Regions from separate parts of the Homo sapiens genome. Here region 2 is reported to be linked to region 1. Evidence: microRNA targets listed by miRTarBase, many of them from high-throughput screens and not tested one by one. Region 1 holds a microRNA gene; the other region holds the end of a gene's coding sequence.
The links. The annotated mature microRNA hsa-miR-4677-3p reads UCUGUGAGACCAAAGAACUACU and lies in region 1 at 1,720-1,741, shown strand. An mRNA with a match to its seed (bases 2 to 7 or 8) in the 3' UTR can be bound and repressed. Matches are read on the target gene's strand: a 7mer-m8 pairs with bases 2 to 8, a 7mer-A1 pairs with bases 2 to 7 and ends in A, and an 8mer does both.

Region 1 (3,417 bases):
ACATGAATGGTGAGAATACAACAGCATGCATATAAAATTCCAATCTGACAGGTCATAAATATACATTTGGATATGTGTATCTATTACTTACAAAAGTAAAAAGAAATGTTCTAATGCACAGTTTGAACCTAAAATATACATACATAAAGTTCTTGAAAGATGCCAACTTGAATCCAATTTTAAATGAAAAAGTTTAAAATTCGTAAGATGAGATGAGTTGATATGTAAATATGTCAATCAAATTGATTGTTGGCAGAGTGAAACCAGTTTTAACTAAGATAACCATGAATACGTTTGTTCATGAAGCCTAAATACAGTGACATTAGAAATGTTAGTGGATAAAAGCTGCGTACTTTAATTTCAGTTTGAACAGATGTTTTATGTTATATCTTTATTGAGATGAAGTAGATAACTCCAATTTTAGTTGACAACATGGATAAAGTTTTTAGAGAGGCAGTTCTAATAGGCTGACTTTTGATTTTCTATTTTTATGTTACAGTACAGGACCTTGAAGGTTTTCATTCTTTGTATTCAATGAAAGCAGGTTGTTTATTCAATTAAAATAGTAAGACTGGGTTCTTAGTGTCAATATTTTAAAATAATTGTTTTAGAATTTAGAAGTAGGTCGCTCCAAATAAGTTTTTTTTCAAATATGTTTCTAGTTCGAGGTTTTTCATCATATTTTCCAACATATTTTCTCTTTTGAGCCAATGAAGTCTTTACAACAAATGATGCAAAGACAATTGGGAAAAGTATTGAAAATGAAAGTGATAATGAAGACTAGAACAAAAAGCTTTTCAAGTCATAACTGAAATCCTTAGTACTAAATTAAAATCCTGGCAACCAAAGTAAAATTCTGCTTTTGTACCACTATATTTGGTGTTGTAATGGGTTTTACATTTTCAGAAGACTTTTAATTATTAACATGTACAAATAATGAAACATTTTATTGCATCCAGTTGGGGGCGTGCCTGATAGTGGAATGGAAAATGCTTTCTGTCAGGGACTGAAGGCCTAGGTCTACTAAGTTTATCACAGATAACTTTTCTTTCCTGATATATTGTAATTTTTTAAAAAGGAATCAATATATTGGCATACTTTTGGCCTTTCGTATTATTCTACAGCATTCTGACAGCATAATATTTTGGACTAACTGCAAAAATACATCAGGAAAGAGTCTCAGTTATTTAAAATTCCATTATAATTTTCTAGAGGAAAAAAGATCAGGGACAATAGGAGTATAATATCACTTGTAAAGGAATAACTTGTTTAGAAGCATTTGCAATATTAGAAGTATTTGCAGTATTAAATCTCATTTTAATTAATCCGTGATGGTATGGAGGCTAAAGTTGCAGGATTTACAAGGAGCAGTTTTCATTTGTAAACGTTTTCTGATAATAGTGAAACAATAGTAGTTTTCATAATGACGTTTAGTGGTATGTTTTTAGATAGAGATGTGCCTTTTTAGGAGGTCACAGCTTTAGGAATAAAACCTCTGAACAGTTACAAGATGTTTGTGATGTGTTGTGAAGTGATGTGCTTGTTACCATTTTTTTTTCCCAGACGGAATGTGAGGAAATCTTATAGGTACTCTTTTTAACTGTTTTGTATTGAACAGACAGTTTCAGAAAAGAAGTCGTGGTGTCTCATTCCATGGATGATTTGGAGTAGCAAAGCAGCAATTGTTCTTTGGTCTTTCAGCCATGACCTGACCTTCTGTCTGTGAGACCAAAGAACTACTTTGCTTGGCCACCATCTGCACTCAAGAGAGAAATTTACATTTAACTTTTAAAAGCGGGGCATGTTGAGCATTTATCTGAAATACCTACAATAATATAAAGTAGATTAAATGTTTAAGTGTTGTGTATCTTACAATTCAGCATCACAAGCAGGCTATCTGTAGGTTTGCAAACAAGGTGTTCTTCATAATATAGTCATTTTATTCATATTTTAGTTCATCTGACCACTTGATACATTTTTAAAGTGGGTGGGAAACTGTGAGATTGGAATGTGTGAGAACAACAGCTTTTTTGATGTATACAAAATAGGGCAAATGGTTAACCACCAAAATAATTTTCCTTGTGACCTGAGCCTTGGCTCTGGCATAATTAGAAGGAAAGGTTAGGAGAGTAACAATGGCAGTCGCTTCCACCCACTTTCTTCTTTTCTTCTTTATATTGTGTCAGGAACCGATGGGCGGATTATCCTTCCCATCAACTCCTTTGTATCTCTTCAGCTTAGAGAATTCCTGTCAGCCTCAGAGGATGCTTCTTGCACCAGAAAAAGAGGCATTTGGTATGGAGGAGAATGTGAAATATGCTCTTTGATTTTTATGAGAAATTTTTTTAGGCAATGGTTATACACACACACACACTCGATCAGGGGAATTTAAAAACATGTATGAGGGTATAGGGAATATTGTAATGAGTCCTCACATTTCCATCACCTACACTCATCATTTTGCCCGTCCTCTTCCTCAGTCCTATTCCATCACTCATCATTTTGCCAGTCCCCTTCCTCAATCCTATTCCATCACTCATCATTTTGCCAGTCCTCCTCCTCAATCCTATTCCATCTATCTCACTTTTTTCTCTCTACTTCTGTCCTCATCGTCACCTTCATCTTCTTTGTCATGTTTTTTCTGCTCCACCTTCTCATCTTCATCTTCTTCTGTCTTCTTCCTCTACCTCTTTTTCTTCTTTTGCAGAAGTATTTTAAATGGATCTCAGACCTTATGTTATTTTACTCATAAATACCCATGTGGATCTATGAAGGATATTTTTACATACTATGTCATTATCATACCTAACAATGTTAACAATACTTCTTTAATATCAAATAACACCCAGCCTATATTCACATTTCTTTGTCTCAAAAATGTTGATTTTACAGTTGGTTTATTCAAATTAGGAGAACAAGTATGTTTTTGTATGTCCAATTTTCTGGTGTTACCCTTTTTAATAGGAAATAAACAGAACTCTTAGTAAAATTTCATCTTTCTTTGTTGTTGTCTGTTAAATTTTGTACATAATGTTTTGATTATGCTTTATTTTTATAAAATGCCTCATTGTCATTCTAAAGAGGTATAAATTAATCCTACAGCAAAGTATGTGAAGGAAATGGCTACCACGCAGCATTCCTGATAATCATATCCCAAAAGGAGCTTCCTCGCATCCGAAACCCCAAATTCAGCATTAATTTCACAGCCTTGTATTTAAGATTTGGACATGTTGCAGGAGGCCCTAACATGACAAGGATGAGCTGACCTGAAATGAGTGATGCAGAAATAGAGTTTTTTTGTCAACTTCCCTTTTGGTAAATTAATCTGAGAAGACGATTCTTTATAGCCGCTAACCTTTGATTAGGGCCCAGTGCAAAGTGAAAATACAGGACCCTTTTGTTCAGAAAGCAGGAAAG
Region 2 (3,417 bases), not on the chromosome of region 1:
CTGCTGTCCTTGTAGTAGTGTGGGAGGAGAGAAATCTAGTCCCATGCACAAGCTTTCCAGAAGCTCAGGGTTCCTATCTCAGTATTCCACATTTCATATGAGTACATCTCATCTTCCCAACTAAACTGCAAATCTGTAAGGGTGAGATCATGTTTTTATGATGGCTCCTTTAATCTCCCATAGCTCCCATTCCTCTACATAACACCATAGATGTTCAGCCAGTACTTGTAGAACGGTGAATGAATCGATCAAATGAATGAATAGCAACTCTATCTACAAGGCATGCCAAACAAGCTACCACGAGATTCTGATTTACTCCTTGGCTCTTTGTGCTCTCTGTGGAGCACCATTCACATAGTTACCCTGCAGTCCTGCAACCTCACCCATTCTGTAGCACTTTGAAAGGAGAGAGTTGTAACCTTCATAGTCATTGACCTTTCAGTACCCACTTTTATTACATTTTAAATACACCCTTGAAGCCCTCCCATCTTCAAGGAAAGATCCAGCCTGTTAGCTCTGGGTGTGTAACGTAAGACCTTAGCTGATGTCTTCCTTGCAGGCATACCAAGAATGCCAGTCACCTCTCCAAACCCTCCCCCAAACTAACATGGTCTCCTGAGCCTCGGGTCACGCCTGGGATAGAGCAGAGTTAGCAGCCATATGTTTTCACTTCAACAGTAAATCTAACTTGGAATTTTAAGAACCTATTTTTCCCCTCTAGGAAAAAATACTTGGGATATCACATGAAGAAGTAGACTGAAATATCAGATTTGTCATCAGGAATACTCTTTGTCTACTGTGGTCCTGTGCACGTTGGCCTCAGATGGACTACAGGAGATTACAACGTACAAGGCAGATGGAGCATTGACGTTTTCAAAACCATTATTCCTGTGACTGGAGAGGCATCAGGAGAGGTCTCGTTCGTCTCCAGCTCATAAAATGTAGCAGCATCATCCTTGACAGTGATGTTTTTCAGGCCCTCCATTGAGAACCTGAGGAAATCTGTAAAGATAAGTGGTGATGTTGTTTCAAACGTTCAGAACAGATACCATCATCCTGCCTTTGTTAGCTGCTGTAGGGAAAGTGCGTTACAGATGTCTGCTGACCTCACAAGAGTGAAAAGATAAACTGTGCATGTGTTTCCACTTCCGTTTCTAGTACTATTTATTTTTAAACTACACTTGGGGTGGCCTAATACCTAGGAAGATGTTGCTATTCACGTTAGTAAACAGCCTAAAGAAACTCTTAGGTTTACTGCTACATCCATTTGTTTGGAGAGGTAACTGTTGTCTGTGCCTTTTTGAAAAACTTCCATTTGGTACAAAATTTTTACTCCAACACCCCCTCAACCCTTTTCTCAGGGACCACACCTCTTCTTCCCAAGGTCCCTGGGACTTCCTCATTCTTTGTGGTAGTACAATGATTGGTAGCAGGTAAAATAAATACATAGAAAGACTACTGTCAAAAGAGTGTCTTCTGATTAGTAAGTAATAAGTCTTCTGATTATCAAATGAGTTAATTTACATAAAATGCTCAGAACACTTCTTGGTACTTAATGTTAAGTCTTCACTTATGGTCCCTAATGTGTGCTGCCCTCAGCTAAGCTGCCAATTTCCTCTCCTGTCAACGCAGTCACTGATTGCTTTCCTGAGATTGCGGCTGTTCGGTATAAGGTTTTTTAGAAACATGCTCAATAGTAAGTGTTTAAGACACAAAACAATTTAAAAAATACTATCAAATTATAAGGTCTTACAAATTTCTGGATATGTAGTACCCAGCATATGGCCTGATGTAAAACTGGTGCTTAATAAAACTTTGAAGAACAAACAAGTCAGTAAGTCAGACATACTCTCAGGTTCAAGGGAAAACTGGATCTATCTATTATCAAATGCTTCACTAGCCTACCCATCTCAATAAAATGAGTTATTCTCTTTTGTTTTCTTCTCCCACATGAAAGTCATCACTGTTAGGGATAGAGGAGTCTCCATTTTTTGTTTGTTTGTTTGTTTTGTTTTGTTTTGAGACAGACTCTCGCTCTGTCACCCAGGCTGCAGTGCAGTGGCGTGATCTCGGCTCACTGCAACCTCCGCCTCCTGGGTTCAAGCAATTCTCCTGTCTCAGCCTCCCAGGTAGCTGAGATTACAGGCACCCGCCACCATGCCCGGCTAATTTTTTTTTTTGTATTTTTAGTAGAGACGGGGTTTCACCATGTTAGCCAGGATGGTCTAGATCTCCTGACCTCGTGATCTGCCCGCCTTGGCCTCCCAAAGTGCTGGGATTACAGGCGTGAGCCACCACACCCAGCCAGGAGTCTCCTTTTAGACATGGAGACACTGAAGACCACCTCTTCCTCCATCCACTCTGATCTCGCCATTCCAAACTTTTTGCAGTTCCCCAAAGGTATTATGCAACCTGGCACCTCTGAGCCTTCATAACAGTATCCTCTCTACTTGGAGTGTTCTTGCATGATGGCTTCCTTTCCCCCTGTTTCCACTAAAACAACTAACTCTAGCTCATCTTTCCAAATTTCCTCAGTTTCCTCCAGGACTCATTTGCTAACCCTCCCTTGGCCATCATGTGGCTATATTTGGATGCCTTTTCTCATAAGATGCTCCAAATCACCCTGCATGTAGACATTATGCTTAATATATTGCACCGTAAGATTTGGTTTACCCAGTCTTTCTCAGTGGATTGTAAAGTCGTTTGCAAACAGGTACTATGCCTAATTTAACTTTATATATCTAGTGCCTGGCATAGTTTTGGCACACAGTTGCAGAACCATACCCTCGTCTGACTGATACAGCTTGTAAATCAGTATGACTGGAATATGCCCTAAGATATGTGTACTTACAACAAGCTCTCCATGTGTTTCCAATATCATCTATGGCTTGTGGTCAAGATGAAGTAACTAACGAGATTTAATCTCCTGCTTGAAACAACTAAAAAAAAAAAAAGACACTATAGATGAGAATGATTTTCAAGGCATTGGACATTAGGTAATTTTTTTTTTTTTTTGTATTTTTAGTAGAGACGGGGTTTCACTGTGTTAGCCAGGATGGTCTCGATCTCCTGACCTCGTGATCTGCCTGCCTCAGCCTCCCAAAGTGCTGGGATTACAGGCGTGAGCCACCGCGTCTGGCTAGGAGTCTCCTTTTAGAGAACTGGTCCCTGAGAGATGAGACTCTAAGTGAGCCCTATGTTTGCCCTAGAGTACTGCATGCAAAGAGTTTCTAGGTCATGCTGGAGAGAGGGGAACCCACGCAGAGTTCACCAGCTCCCTGAGTAGAGAGGATAGAGCTAGGAGTCCAGAAAGATCAGAGCAGCTGAAGTTTGCAAGTCTGATAAAGGATGAAAGAGAGAGGCACACAAAGCTCCAGAGACCTGCAGATATTTCCCCTTAGGTATTCAGATGAATAC

Region 2: the mRNA of BCL2L14 is a reported target of hsa-miR-4677-3p. The part of its 3' UTR that is shown has no 7-base or 8-base seed match.

What each region holds. Positions count from the first base shown.
Region 1 is chr1:243,344,506-243,347,922 of GRCh38, forward strand. MIR4677 (microRNA 4677) reads left to right here and starts at 1,671; the gene lies at 1,671-1,750. The region is part of intron 12 of SDCCAG8 (SHH signaling and ciliogenesis regulator SDCCAG8); the gene reads left to right.
Region 2 is chr12:12,098,229-12,101,645 of GRCh38, forward strand. It overlaps BCL2L14 (BCL2 like 14), which reads left to right. Exons shown (of 6, transcript NM_138723.2): 6 at 722-1,467. The coding sequence ends at 760. Among named protein-coding and RNA genes, the nearest start is that of MIR1244-4, 12 kb to the right of the region's middle.